Linked DNA regions of Homo sapiens. The protein of the gene in region 1 purifies or fractionates together with the protein of each later gene. This does not show direct contact. Each region holds a gene or a part of one and is shown on either strand. Other genes may lie near its edges.

The links. Proteins that work in one complex are often made in the same cells at the same time.
Region 2: the proteins of RASSF9 (region 1) and SPRR2E purify together in Homo sapiens (affinity purification with mass spectrometry; one large-scale study listed by BioGRID and IntAct). This does not show direct contact.
Region 3: the proteins of RASSF9 (region 1) and CCDC85C purify together in Homo sapiens (affinity purification with mass spectrometry; one large-scale study listed by BioGRID and IntAct). This does not show direct contact.
Region 4: the proteins of RASSF9 (region 1) and A2ML1 purify together in Homo sapiens (affinity purification with mass spectrometry; one large-scale study listed by BioGRID and IntAct). This does not show direct contact.

What each region holds. Positions count from the first base shown.
Region 1 is NC_000012.12:85,805,410-85,808,909, forward strand, and holds part of RASSF9 (ras association domain-containing protein 9), read right to left. Parts: intron 554-3,500; coding exon 1-553. UniProt on the Homo sapiens protein: May play a role in regulating vesicuar trafficking in cells.
Region 2 is NC_000001.11:153,092,635-153,095,922, forward strand, and holds SPRR2E (small proline-rich protein 2E), read right to left. Parts: upstream 1,893-3,288; 5' UTR 1,850-1,892; intron 1,137-1,849; 5' UTR 1,118-1,136; coding exon 899-1,117; 3' UTR 501-898; downstream 1-500. UniProt on the Homo sapiens protein: Cross-linked envelope protein of keratinocytes. It is a keratinocyte protein that first appears in the cell cytosol, but ultimately becomes cross-linked to membrane proteins by transglutaminase.
Region 3 is NC_000014.9:99,517,208-99,520,707, forward strand, and holds part of CCDC85C (coiled-coil domain-containing protein 85C), read right to left. Parts: intron 1-3,500. UniProt on the Homo sapiens protein: May play a role in cell-cell adhesion and epithelium development through its interaction with proteins of the beta-catenin family. May play an important role in cortical development, especially in the maintenance of radial glia.
Region 4 is NC_000012.12:8,825,621-8,829,120, reverse strand, and holds part of A2ML1 (alpha-2-macroglobulin-like protein 1 isoform 1 precursor), read right to left. Parts: intron 1-3,500. UniProt on the Homo sapiens protein: Is able to inhibit all four classes of proteinases by a unique 'trapping' mechanism. This protein has a peptide stretch, called the 'bait region' which contains specific cleavage sites for different proteinases.

The sequences.
Region 1 (3,500 bases):
TTGCTGATGAATAGTATGGTCCTGGGAAATGATCAGATGAACTAATGTCTCCATATTATCTCGATCATGAGAAACTGTGTCCTGCTTAATTTTAGCCAGTTTCCGGAAAGTTTTCCTGACTATTCTTTTTTGTTTATCTGGTGGTAAAGTCTTCATGTAGTTTGCTGGGCTGAGCTCCCACAATTTTTCTGTGTTTTGCACTAATTTGGCTTCAGCTGTCCGCCACAAAGGAACTGGAAGAAAAGCATCTGCTTTAACCAAAACAAATTGCATATTGGGCTGCTCATCTCCCCACGCTTTCCAAAGCTTCAGGATTCTAGTTAGTGGAGGAAGAACCCTTTCGGAGCCTCTCCACTTCTCTATGATGCAGTAATCACTGGGCTTCCCCAGAAGAAATCGTTTCTCTCCAAACGTAGCCTCATGTTCCTCAAGCAAAGCCTGGATGACATCAGCAGAGGTGGTGCGTTTAGTCAGCCCACAGACAAGCTTCTCTTCTTGGCAAACCCAAACCACAATTTCCTTCTCTTCTGAATCCATGTCTTTAGTTGGAGATCTGAAAGAAAAACAAAAGCACATTATATTTCTGTCATTGCCTGTGTAAACTCAGAAAGATGGTTTAACATTAGTATGCTTTCTAGATTTTTACCCTTAATGAGAGAGGCATTTTTTTTCTGTCGCCCAGGCTGGAGTGCAGTGGTGCGGTCTCAGCTCACTGCAAGCTCCGCTTCTCGGGTTCACGCCATTCTCCTGCCTCAGCCTCCCCAGTAGCTGGGACTACAGGCACCTGCCACCAGGCCCGGCTAATTTTTTTTTTGTATTTTTAGTACAGACGGGGTTTCACCATGTTAGCCAGGATGGTCTCGATCTCCTGACCTTGTGATCCACCCGTCTCGGCCTCCCAAAGTGCTGGGATTACAGGCGTGAGCCACTGCGCCTGGCCGAGAGAAGCATTTTTAAGTTGAGAATAAGAGTCAGAAGATTGGCCGGGTGTGGTGGCTCACGCCTGTAATCCCAGCACTTTCGCAGGCCGAGGCGGGTGGATCACCTGAGGTCAGGAGCTTGAGACCAGCCTGGCCAACATGGATAAACCCCGTCTCTACTAAAAATACAAAAATTAGCCAGATGTGGTGATGGACACCTGTAATTCCAGCTACTCAGGAGGCTGAGGCAGGAGAATTGCTTTAATCCAGGAGGCGGTGGTTGCAGGGAGTGGAGATTGTGCCACTGCACTCCAGCCTGGGCAACAGCGTGAGACTCCATCTCAAAAAAAAAAAAAAAAAAAAAAAAAAAAAGTCAGAAGATATAATGCAAGAAAAATATAAAAACCATGGAAAGAATCTTAATTATCTTTTTATTTCCTAGTGTGCTCTGGGAAGAGCAAACTTTCATTCAAGAAAACTGAGGCTATTTTAATTAAAGCATAGGTAGCGATAGTGAAATCATAGAGTTAAAAATAGTACAAAATGGAAAAATCGTCATTCTTTTTCATTAACAATTGTTTATTTCATGCCAACTATATGCCAGACACACCTGAAGATACTAAGGATATAGTAATAAACAAAGAAGACAAGAATGCTGACATGAATATGTAACTAATGTAATATCAAATCACAGTAAATGCTATGAAGAAAATTAAATGGGGCAAAGGAATAGAAAACGACCTGGAAGAAGGGCGGACTATTTTACTTAAAGTGCTTAGGACAGTCTTCCCCAAGGAGGTGACATTTGAATAGGGATATCCATTATCAAAAAGAGGCAATCAGAGTTCTCAGGAAAGAATTCCAGGAACAATGAGCAGAAGTATAAGGATCTAGGGACAGCAATACTGTGAATGTAGTTGAAAGCTGAGGATAGCAGAGTTGGAAATTGCTGCTGGTGGGAAGGAGAGATTAAATAATAGGCAACAGAGGGGATGGAGAAAAGCAACATCTCCTTTCTCCATCCCCTACTTTAGAGAAGGGGGAAGCCAAAGAAAGTGTTAGCTAACACCTTCCTAAGCTAAAGCAACTGGAAAGTTTTAAGTAGAGGTAAAACTAATTTATGCTTTACATATGTCTGTCTTCTGTTTGTGAAATGGACTGGAAAATAGAAAAAAATAGAAGCAAGAAGCCTATTCCATCAGTCTAGAAAATAGATGATGATTTCCTGGACTAGAGTTTTAACAGTACAGATATCATAAAGGAATCAGAGTTGGGATATAGATGATTAGACAGATAGATCCCCCCTACCCAGCACGGAGAGGCACACACATGTATTTATGTAAATATACATGTATATATGGGCTTGATAGTACTTTTCTCTGTTCTATAGAAGGTCAAGGGGAAAAAAACACTTCAGTTCTCTGGAGAAAAAATGACACAGGTAGTAAAAGAAGCAAAAATTCCATGATGTCTAGATCATACCTATTGGAACATTTTTAAGATCATACTTTCCATCATGACTATGCATCAAGTTGACTGTGTCTTTCATAATGCCTCTTTAAAAGAATGCTAAGAAACAAATGACATGAAATTAGTTATGCTACAATGTGATTTATGATGGTATAACAGTTTTGAGTAGTAATTGGCTTCTTGTGAAAGTTAAGTCAAATCATTTATCACTTTATTTATATAGTGCACTCAAAGGATATGACTCCAGGGACCACTTACCAAAGAAAATTTCCCTGCCTTCTATAATAATTTAACATTTAGAATTTATAGTGTTTATGTTTTGGCAGCAATAGTGATTAATTCTATGTTGCTATCTTTATTTTAAATTAACTAACTCTTATACTTTGGTTATTGACTCACATGAAGTAAAAAAGTTATTACTAAAGGTGAAAGATACATCAGGGATGCCAAGTAACACTAAAGATTAGGTCCAACTCCTAACAAAAAATTTCCAGGAAAATATAAGTATTCACATGGAGGAAGTAAAATGTTATAGTTTATTACTCAAAAAATCACACCAAGTTGTGTTAATTCTCTTATAAAATATTTTGCACTTAATGACTCAATACTGAGTATTATATTTTGAAGTAAGTATGATATTTGACAATGTTTATAATTCATCATTTAATAATTGCAAGTAGCAAAAGAGTAGGTTAGAAATTAGAATACCAAACTTACTTTCATATTTTGATTAGTAGAGATATAAGACACAAATACTGTCTAAACAAAAACAAGTAAGTTCTTTAAGTAAGTGATACTAACTTACTGTGTTATGGCTATATAGCACAAGTCAGCTCTAAATAAATCCTTACCTTAATATGTTTTAATTATGTGCATGCAATATCCAAAATTAGTATAACATTTTTTGTACCACATAGAGTTAATTTACTTCAACTAGGATATTTGAAAAGCAATAAACAATATTCTATGTACTTATTGCATGTTAAATTACAAAATTTTATTTTAAAATAAATAATGGTAAAAATAAAATTAAATAGTGGTCATAATTATCAACCTTATAATGCTAATAGTTATTATGTTAAAACTAAGGACAAATTTGTTTTATGTTAT
Region 2 (3,288 bases), on another chromosome or scaffold:
AACAGAGTCTTCTTATTTTTTATATTAGTTACATCCAAGCCACTCTATTGCTGGAACAAATATGGTAGTGGTTGTCATGGGGAGTGATGATGATGATGATGATGATGGTGGTGGTGGTGGTAATGGTGGAAACAATGATGATATGTTACTGCCAATAAACTTCTAAAATGACAGCTAATTATGTGTCAGGCATTGCGACAACAAAATTTCAGATAGTAATTAGATTTATCCCAAGACTAGTTTGTTAAGTAAATGTTATTTTGGTCGCTTTGCAATAAAGAGATTGACATTCACAGAAGTTGAATAATATGTTCCTCAAATCAATCAAACACTAATTAAGGAAAATAAAAGTGGTTTAAATAATACAGACATAATCTTTGATATGACCCAAATTTTAAGATTCTGACTGTGGTTGAAAGAAAGGTGGAAATAAACCCAAATGATTATATAATTTTACTAATAAAGCAGATTTGAAAAGAAACAAAAGATCCATTCACAAATACGTATGCAAAGATATTTTATTCAGGGAGTGAAAGAAAAGTGACAATTGCACAGGTGTTAGAAGCCCATGCCCAGGTGACAGACAGACACAGAAAACATCAACAGCATTTTTTGATGGTTCCCAGGGACAGAGCTGCTGGTCCTTCTTCCAAAGCTCTGGGAACTGACACTGCTGAGGACTTCCTTTCTCAGTCTCCACCTGGACAGTGGCAATATGGCAGCCTCAGAAAGGAAACCTTTTGCTATCAGGGATCATCATGGGCAGATCACTGGCTAAGAGGAAAGAAGCTAACTGTGTATCCATGGTAGGCTTTGATGAGAAGATGCAGGTGAAGCTGTGGAACAAGGTGAGCCAATTATCCTTATCCTTTCATGCTCCTGATGAATTCTGAAGCTGTTACTTGCTCTTGGGTGGACACTTTGGCTGGCAGGGTGGGGAAGGTGTCACAGGAGGACATTTTTGCTGGCACTGCTGAGGTGGGCAGGGCTGTGGACACTTTGGTGGTGGGCAGGGCTCAGGGCACTTCGGGGGTGGACATGGCTCTGGGCACTTTGGCGTGGGGCACACAGGAGGTGGCTGGCAGGGCTGCTTGCACTGCTGCTGTTGATAAGACATCCTGCTGGAGTCTCAGAATCTGAAAGAAATGATATGACAGTGTTCACAGGAATGGACTCCTCCAGAGAGAGAAGCCAAAGCTTATGTAATACCATGGCATATTATTTCTCCAATCTCCAAAAATTTATTTAAACTCTTAGCTCTCTTTTCATGACTTCCTGTCTTCTCCTTTCCACTTTAGCAAGTTGTTTCATCAGCCCTAGGAATTCCTGCCTTTCCTCATACAATTTTTCCAAAGAAAACATCTCTATAATAAAGAAGCAAGCATGTTATTCCATGAAAATGACATCTTCAGGAAAGGCAGTCACAAGTTCAGACCTCCTGGGCAATCTCACAAGCTATTCCTATCATCATTATCTGTTGTAAAGCACCAGTGGGTTGACTTGGGCACAGAGCAAGGGCTGTTCAGGAAGAAGTACTGGCTCTCACACCTGCTAAGACACAAACCTTTGAAAAGGATACCAGGAAAATATGGAAAAGAGAAAAATACTTCATCCCTTTCTTCAAACCAAAACTTTCCTATTAACTTCTCTGTCCATATGGACATATAATTGTACATTTTTTAAAAATCTGTGTAAAACACTGTATCATGTAATCTAATCCTGTAGTTCCATCAACTAAGTACCATCAAACCTATGATCACAGGTTTGGATCCACCAAACTTGCTGGATTCAGGTTAAATTCAACACTTCAGGGCACAAAGAACAGAGGAACTCAAGGAAGCAGACTCACCAGGTTCTCCAAAGCAGATCAGTGCTCAAGTACCAGGAGTTTAGGAGTTGTAGAGCAGAGAACCTCTTTATAGGGCCTGCTACCCCACCCAGCAGGAAGTGGAACTACCCAAAACTGGGCTGGCCCAGCAATGTCCCAACTAAAATGCAAATCTATCCATAACTGGCATGACAGGGATTCTCAAACTGGGAAATATCCTGTTCTGGGATCTTTCCACTGGATTAAGTGCCCTGACTCACTGAGGCCCTGCCTTAGATCTCAGTTTCAGTGACAGCAAAGAGGGACTTGGGGGATTCTCTAACTGGTGGTCAAGGGCTCTCTTTCTTGATTGGGGGCAATGAATGCTTCCTGTCTTACACATTCCCTAAATCATAAAACTTCCTGCCCTGATCCACTTTAGCTGAATGCCATATTGTTTGTACATGAACCCATCTCCACCTCTACTTTCCTTGTACAATTTGCCAATGTGCTAGAAGGAAGGAGAGACCTAACAAAGGCCTGAGTTCTGGCCCCAGATTTTTTTGCTAAGCTGTATGACCACAGCCAGGTCAACTCTCCTCCCTGGAACTGTAAACAGAAGAGCATCTTATTTACCTCTGGGTTTGGAGGCACTGACCACATTGTGCCATCTGTTGATCCTGTTCAAGCCTGAAATTTTCTGCTCCACCTCTTTCTCTTGCAGAAACCCAGATTTTACCTATATTCCTTTCCTCTTTGAGGGTTGTCTTCTACAACCCTCAAAGAGGCACTTGTGTCCCAAGATAGATACCAGAGTGAGATCCAGTCTCTCCAGTACATTTGCCACTGCTACCATCAAGGGAGTGTACTACAGGCTTTTCATTTGTAAAACTGTACTCTTATTCACCACATTAAGAAAATGGAGAAAAGGGAACCAAAGTTACAAGCATTCATTTTAAATCTATGTATTGAACCATGCCTGTATGTTTCCCTGTGAACATCATATAGAGAACAAGATGCATAGACTCACAGTATCTTATGTAAATAATTAGAAGTTTTCCAGAATAGAGGTCAGAGCACTTAAAGTCTGAAATCTAGGGGAAAATATAAACTCAGTGTGATCCTATGTGTTTGCTTTCTCTACCTCTCTTTCCAAACAGGTTTTAGTCTTTGAAAAATGGTATTTTTTAATTTGTTTGTATGTTCTTCCATTGTCTTTTCCAAAAGCTCTCTAGCCCCACAACCTGCTAGATTATCAACTCACACCCCAATGTATACCTCTCATCTGTTCATTTTAGTACACATTGTTCACTCGATACGTATGTTGTCAATGTGAATGTCTTTCACATCTTTTTAAAACTCTTCCTGCAATCAATGGGGCTTACTAAACATTGTATATTAAACATTTAAAACAGTGCTGCTGGAGCTTTCTTATCTGGGCTAATGATCAGGAAGCTTTCCAAGAATGTGATTTTATAATT
Region 3 (3,500 bases), on another chromosome or scaffold:
AGCTCACCCTGGCTGGCTCCCACAGGAATGACCGGTGGCTCAGACAAGGCCCCCATTCTGAGGGGCCAGGGCCCAGGCAGGAGGAAAAGGGGACCGGGGTGAGGCAGAGGAGGCAGGTGTGAGGATGGAGACCCAAGGAGCCCACAGCCAGTCTGGCCAGTCCCGCCCACCAGGTCTTCTGCAGATGAAATGGTCCCTGATAGCACAGAGGCAAGAGGGGCAGTCCAGGGCCCACCCACACCTCTCAGGCTCCTCTACAACACCCCACAGATAAGACCTAGCGTCTGTTTTGCAAGGAAAGTAAGTTCAGCCTAGGGAGGGCAAGAGACCCAGATCACAGCAAGACCAGGAAGGTCTGGACTTAACCCTGGCACCTGACTCCAAACTCCCTTCCCCTGCCCACCCTGGAGCCACCGGTGGGCGAGGCCGGCTTCGCCCTGAGCACTCCCTGGGGCCTGCCTCCCAGCTGCCACCTCCCAGCCCTGCGGGATGAATTGGCTGCCAGGTGCCCAGCTCCCACATCAGGCCTTGGGGAGGGGACCCAGCCTCTGTCAGAAGCTGCGTGTCTACCCAGGGGCAGGCAGTCCCACCCCCAGCTTCCTGCCTGGAAGGGTCCATGTGGCTGGGAAGCCAGGTGCAGGGCTTCTGCCTCGGGCTGCAGTGGGGACCACAGGGGCCCAACAGAAACCAGCAGGTCACAAGATGCTGGGAGAGGCTTGGGAGGAACTTACAAGTGCCCAGAGCCAGACAGAAAACACCCAGCGGTGCCCTGTGGGCCCTGGAAGCGGGGTTTCCAGGACATCTTCGGGGCTCCCACCTCTGGCAATCCTTGGGCCAACCATGGAAGCTGAGTCTGCCGCCCTCTCTGTAAATGGGGCCCTGATGACGCCTCCCAACGGCCTGGCAAGCTCAGGGAGCTGGGCTGGAATCCCACCCACCCAGGCCTGCATCATGGGGCCACCTAACACTGCAGGGCTGGGTTCTGCGACCCTCAGGACCTGGAACCCCCTGCAGGCCTGGCAGCCAACCCCTGGTGCCCTCCCCGCCCGCCCTGGCCTGGACCTGCTCCCAGGGCCTTGCAGGTTGACCGGCTCCCGCCTCCACATGGAGACCAGGCCCCACCCCTGAGGCTAGGGGGCCTGGGAGCTGCTACCTCCGGAGGCCCCCCGAGCCCTGGGGTCTAGGAAAGCGTCATTGAGGTGGGGCTCAACCCACGCTGAGCCTCGGTTTCCTCGTCTGGACAATAGAAAGGGTCCTCTGCCCCAGGGTGTGTGCAGACCCCTAACTCCAGCCCAGGCTGTTGGGTCTCTGTAGTGTAGGGAACCCAACAGGGACGCTGGGGATTCCCCCTGGGGCAACGCAAGGCGGCACTCCCCGCGCCAGACAGCAGGGGGCGCCAGTCGCACACATACGGCCCTGGGAGACCTGGGCACCTACACCTTCCTGCACCTTCCGCTGCAGAACACAGGCCATGTGCCAGCCGGCCCCTGGCACCTCTGGCCTCATCTGCACCAGGCCCCTGGGCTGCCTGTCCTGTTACAGCCCCCGGCTCTAGGGGGCTGGGATTTCTGCAGCACAGGCAGGAGGGAAGCCAGGAGCGTGGGGGTGGGCTGTGCAAGCCGCCCCTCTCCTGCCCGCCTCACTGGGCAGTGGTGGGTGCCAGCGAGGGCATGGCCCGGGATCCTGAAAGTGACACCAGGACTAGACAAAGCCCTAGTGTTACCTCCAGGGCATTCCCGGGGTGCAGGGGCCCCCACCTGTACTAGAACTCAGCCCCCTCGGGCCACACACACCTCCCACTGACTAGGTACCCACTTAGGGCAGATGGGCCCACTGAGTCCTTGCCACACTGCTCCCAGCAGGCACTATCTTTTTACATGTTCATACATGCCTTTTTTTTTTTTTTTTTTTTTTTTTTTTTTTTGAGTGAGAGGATCTCACTCTGTCGCCCAGGCTGAAGTACAGTGGCACCATCTCAGCTCACTGCAGCCTTGACCTCCCAGGCTCAAGCAATCCTCCCACCCCAGCTTCCAGCGTAGTTGGAACTACAGATGCACACCACCATGCCCAGCTTTTTTTTTTTTTTTTTGGTAGAGATGGGGTTTCATCATGTTGCCCAGGCTGGTCTTGAACTCCTGGACTCAAGCAATCCTCCTGTCTTGGCCTCCCAAAGTGATGGGATTATAGGCGTGAGCCACTGAGCCTGGCCTACATGCCCACTTTACAGACAAGGAGAGTGAGGCTAAGAGAATGGCTTGCCCAAGACCAAACAGCTTGTAAACAATGGGGCTGGGCGCCAAACCCAAGTCTGTGGGACTCCTGAGCTGGTGCCCAAAGTGAGGATACCAGTGTGCACCAGAGAGAACTGAAAATAGACATCCACAAAATACCTGTCGCCAAACGCTCAGAGCAACACCATTCATGTGAGCCCAAACATGGAAACGATCCAAATGTACAGCAACAAATGAAGGAATCATGTGTTCCACCCACACAATGGAATAGTATTCAGCCATGAAAAGCAATGAAGACCAATACAGGGTACCTGTGGCTGGACCCTGAGAACAAGATTTGGAGTGAAAGAAGCCTGACACAAAAGGCCACACGTCATGTGATTCCATTTATACGAAATATCCAGAATTGGCAAATCCGTGGAAACAGAAAGCACCAACCAGTCGGTGGTTGCTGGTGGCTGGGAGGAAGGGGGACGGGAGTGACGGCCGATGGGTACAGGGTGTCTTTCTGGGGTGATGAAAATGTTCTACTGTGATGACGGCACAAGTCTGAGTGTCCTCCCTTAGGAGGCTGATGGGTATAAACCACCTCCCACCCTCCACTGGGCACCTGCCCTGACAGCCAGTGGATGGAGGGTATGGGCAGCAGTGGGCAGGGAGGGGGTGTCCACCCCAGAGAGTCACCTGCTTTACCCAGGGACTCTCCAGCATGCCCTCAATGTGCCCATGACCCACAGGTAGCCTTAAAGGAGACTTGCCTGGGTCTGGAAGGGCCTGTGTGCCAGGCAGTGTCTGAGCCCGGAGACGGCCCTCTCTGGATAACCCCCTCACTCTCCCCGGGGGTCCAAGTGCCAGACATGGGCTCTCCAGGCCCCAGCAAGGGCCTCTGGCCCTGGCCCCTCCACAGCAGCCACTTCTCCAGGCTTCATCGGCCCCTCCCACGAGATACCTTGACCCCTCAACCCCCACTCCTGGGGGCCTGCCCGCCGACCAGCCCCGATCACGGCCCCTGCACCTCAGTTCATCCCATTCCTGGGGGCCTGCCCGCCGACCAGCCCCAATCACGGCCCCTGCACCTCAGTTCATCCCACTCCTGGGGGCCTGCCCGCCGACCAGCCCCGATCACGGCCCCTGCACCTCAGTTCATCCCACTCCTGGGGGCCTGCCCGCCGACCAGCCCTGATCATGGCCCCTGAACCTCAGTTTATCACCCGGCCTCCTGGCCTCATGGAGGAGCGACCCCTGCACAGCCCCCACGCTGGCCCCTGA
Region 4 (3,500 bases), about 77 Mb from region 1:
GTGATCACAGTGCCTGGTTTTAACTTTATATCACTGAAAGAGGCACTGAAGAGGGTAGAAAAGACACACTTGAATTGCTGATTCACCCCCTCCCCGCCATCCCCCAGCAGTGACTGTGGTACAGAGACAGAATCGATGAGCTTGAGGGCGGGAGAGCACAGTGACTGTGGGACTTGGCTTTAGAATGCAATGCTGCCCAATCACAGGGGAAAGCACACAGGGCAGAACTCAGCCAGTGCCCATGGAGGGAGCATTTAGACCAGCGTTAGCCAGGGGTGAACTGCCCATCCCAGCGGTTGGAAGCTGAGTTCCGATTAGCCCCTGGGGCTCTAAATACTCAGCAGTGATAGCTGGGCAGTACTTGTCGTGGGCCTTGGGTGAGACTCAGAGACATGCTGGCTTCCAGTGATTCAGCACATTCCCAGCTGTGGTGACTATGGGGAGAGACTCCTTCTACTTGAGAAAAGGAGAGGGAAGAGTCAAGGGGACTTTGTCTTGCAGCTTAGGTACCAGCTCAGCCACAGTGGGGTACAGCACCAAGCAGGCCCTTGGGGTCGCCAGTTATGGGCTGTGGCTCTTGGATGCCATTTCTGGACCTGCTGTTTGTCAGAGGAGAGCTCACTGCCCTGAAAAGAGAGTCCCAGGCCAGGCACCATTCACCACAAGCTGGTGAAAGGAGACTTTGGGCCTCGAGAGAATACTGGAAGTATCCAGGCAGTACTCCTGTGGGCCTGGAGTAGTGGTGGCCACAGAGAGAGACTCCTCTGTGAAAAGGGGAAGGAAGAGTGGGAAGGACTTTGTCTTATGGCTTGGGTGCCAACTCAGCTGCAGTAGAACAGAACACCAGGTAGATTCCTAAGGTTTCTGACTCCAGGCCCTGGCTCGCAGATTACATCTCTGGACCTTCCAGGGTCATGGGGAACTCACCACCCTGAAGGGGAGGACACAAGCCTGGCTGGCTTTGTCACCTGCTGACTGTAGAGCCCTAGGGCCTTGAGCAAACATGGGCAGTAGCCAGGTACTGGTTACCACAGGCCTTGGGTGAGACACAGTACGGTGCTGGCTTCAGATCTGACCCAGTGCAGTCCCAATGCTGGTGGCCACAGGGGTGCTTGTGTCACCCCTCTCTCCAGGCAGCTCAGCACAAAGAGAGAAACTCTGTTTGTTTTGGAGAAAGTAAGGGAAGAGAACAGGAGTCTCCTCCTGGTAATCTGGAATTCTTCCAGATCTTATCCAAGACCATCAAGGAGGTACCTCTATGAGCCTTCAAGAGCCACAGAGATACTGAGCATGGGGTCCTCCCTAATGCAGATGAACTGCAGAGTCCAAACACTTAGATTACGACACCCAAGTCCCTTCAAATACCTGGAAAGTCTGCCCAAGGAGGACAGGTACAAACAAGTCCAGAATGCCAAGACTACAATAAATACCTAACTCTTCAATGCCCAGACACCAATGAACATCCACATCAAGACCATGTTGGAAAAAATTACCTCACCAGATGAACTAAATAAGGCACCAGCAACCAATCTCCCAGAAACAAAGATAGTGATCTTTCAGATCGAGAATTCAAAATAGCTGTTTTGAGGAAACTCAACAAAATTTTAGATAACACAGAGAAAGAATTCAGAATCTTATCAGATAAATTTAACAAAGAGAAAAAAAAAGAGGTATTGACTTTAAAGAGGAGGTTGAGAGAGAAAATGAGATGGAAAGTTTATTCAAAGTGAAAATAACAGAGAACTTTCCAAACCTAGAGAAAGATATCAATATTATTATTATTTGAGACAGTCTCGCTCTGTTGCCCAGGCTGGAGTGCAGTAATGTGATCTTGGCTCATGTGACCTCCGCCTCCCTGGTTCAAGTGATTCTCCTGCCTCAGCCTCCCCAGTAGCTGGGATTACAGGCACAGGCCACCTTGCTTGGCTAATTTGGTATTTTTAGTAGAGACAGGGTTTTGCCATGTTGGCCAGGCTGGTCTCGAAATACTCATCTCAGGTGATTTGCCCACCTCAGCCTCCCAAAGTGCTGGGATTACAAGCATGAGCCACTGAGCCCAGCTGAGAAAGATATCAATATTAATTACAAGATTATAGAACACCAAGCAGATTTAGCCCAAATGAGTCTACCTCAAGACATTTAATAATCAAACTCCCAAACATCAAGGAATAAAAAACAAAAAAGAATCCTAAAAGTGCAAGAAGACAGACGTGGTGGCTTACGCGTGTAACCCCAGCACTTTGGGAGGCTGAGTGGGGAGGATAACTTGAGGTCAGGAGTTGGAGACCAGCCTGGCCAACATGGCGAAACTCCATCTCTACCAAAAATACAAAAATTAGCCAGGGGTGGTGGCGCTCACCTGTAAACCCAGCTACTCGGGAGGCTGAGGCAGGAGAATCACTTGAACCCAGGAGGCAGAGGCTGCAATGAGCAACCATTTATTGCATTCCAGCCTGCGCGGCAGAATGAGACTCCATCTCAAAAAACAAAAAAACAAAAACAAAAATTAGCTGGGCATGGTGGCGCATGCCTGTACTCCCAGCTACTTGGGATGCTGAAGCACAAGAATCACTTGAACCCAGGAGGCAGAGGTTGCAGTAAGCAGTGATCCCGCCACTGCACTCCACAGCCTGGGCAACAGAGGGAGACTCTGTCTCAAAAACAAAAAAAATTCAGTAACATTTCTATATGCCAACAGGGAACAATCTGAAAAAGAAATTAAGAAAGATAATTCCATTTACAATAGCTATAAATAATATAAAATACCTAGGAATAAACTTTACCAAAGAAGTGAAAGATCTCAACAATAAAAACTATAAAATACTGATGAAAGAAATTGAAGAGGACACACAAAAACATGAAAAGAGATTTCATGTTTCTGGATTGGAAGAATTGATATTGTTAAAATTCCGTACTACCTAAGGCAATCTACAGGTTCATTGCAATCCCTATCAGAATACTAATGACATTCTTCACAGAAATTCTACATCCTAAATCTTAGGACTTTTGTAAAAAAAATCATAAAATTTTTATGGAACCATAAAAGACCTAAAATAACCAAATCTATTCTGAACAAAAAGAACAAAGCTGGAAGAATCACATTACATGACTTCAAATTATACTGCAAAGCTATAGTAACCAAAACAGCATGGTACTGTCATAAAAACAAATACATAGACCAATGGAACAGAATAGAGAACCCAGAAACATGTCTAGGGTGAACTCATTTTTGACAAAGGTGACAAGTGTATACACTGGAGAAAGCACAGGCTCTTCAATAAATGGTTCTGGGAAAATTGGATATCCATATGCAGAAGAATGAAACTAGACCCTCATCTCTCTCCATATAGAAAAATCAAGTCAAAATGGATGAAAGATTTAAATCTAATACCTCAATCTATGAAACTATTATATATAAGAAAACTTTGGGGAAACTCTCCAGAACATTGGTCTGGGCAAAGATTTCTTGAGTAATACCCAAGGAGCACAAGAAACCAAAG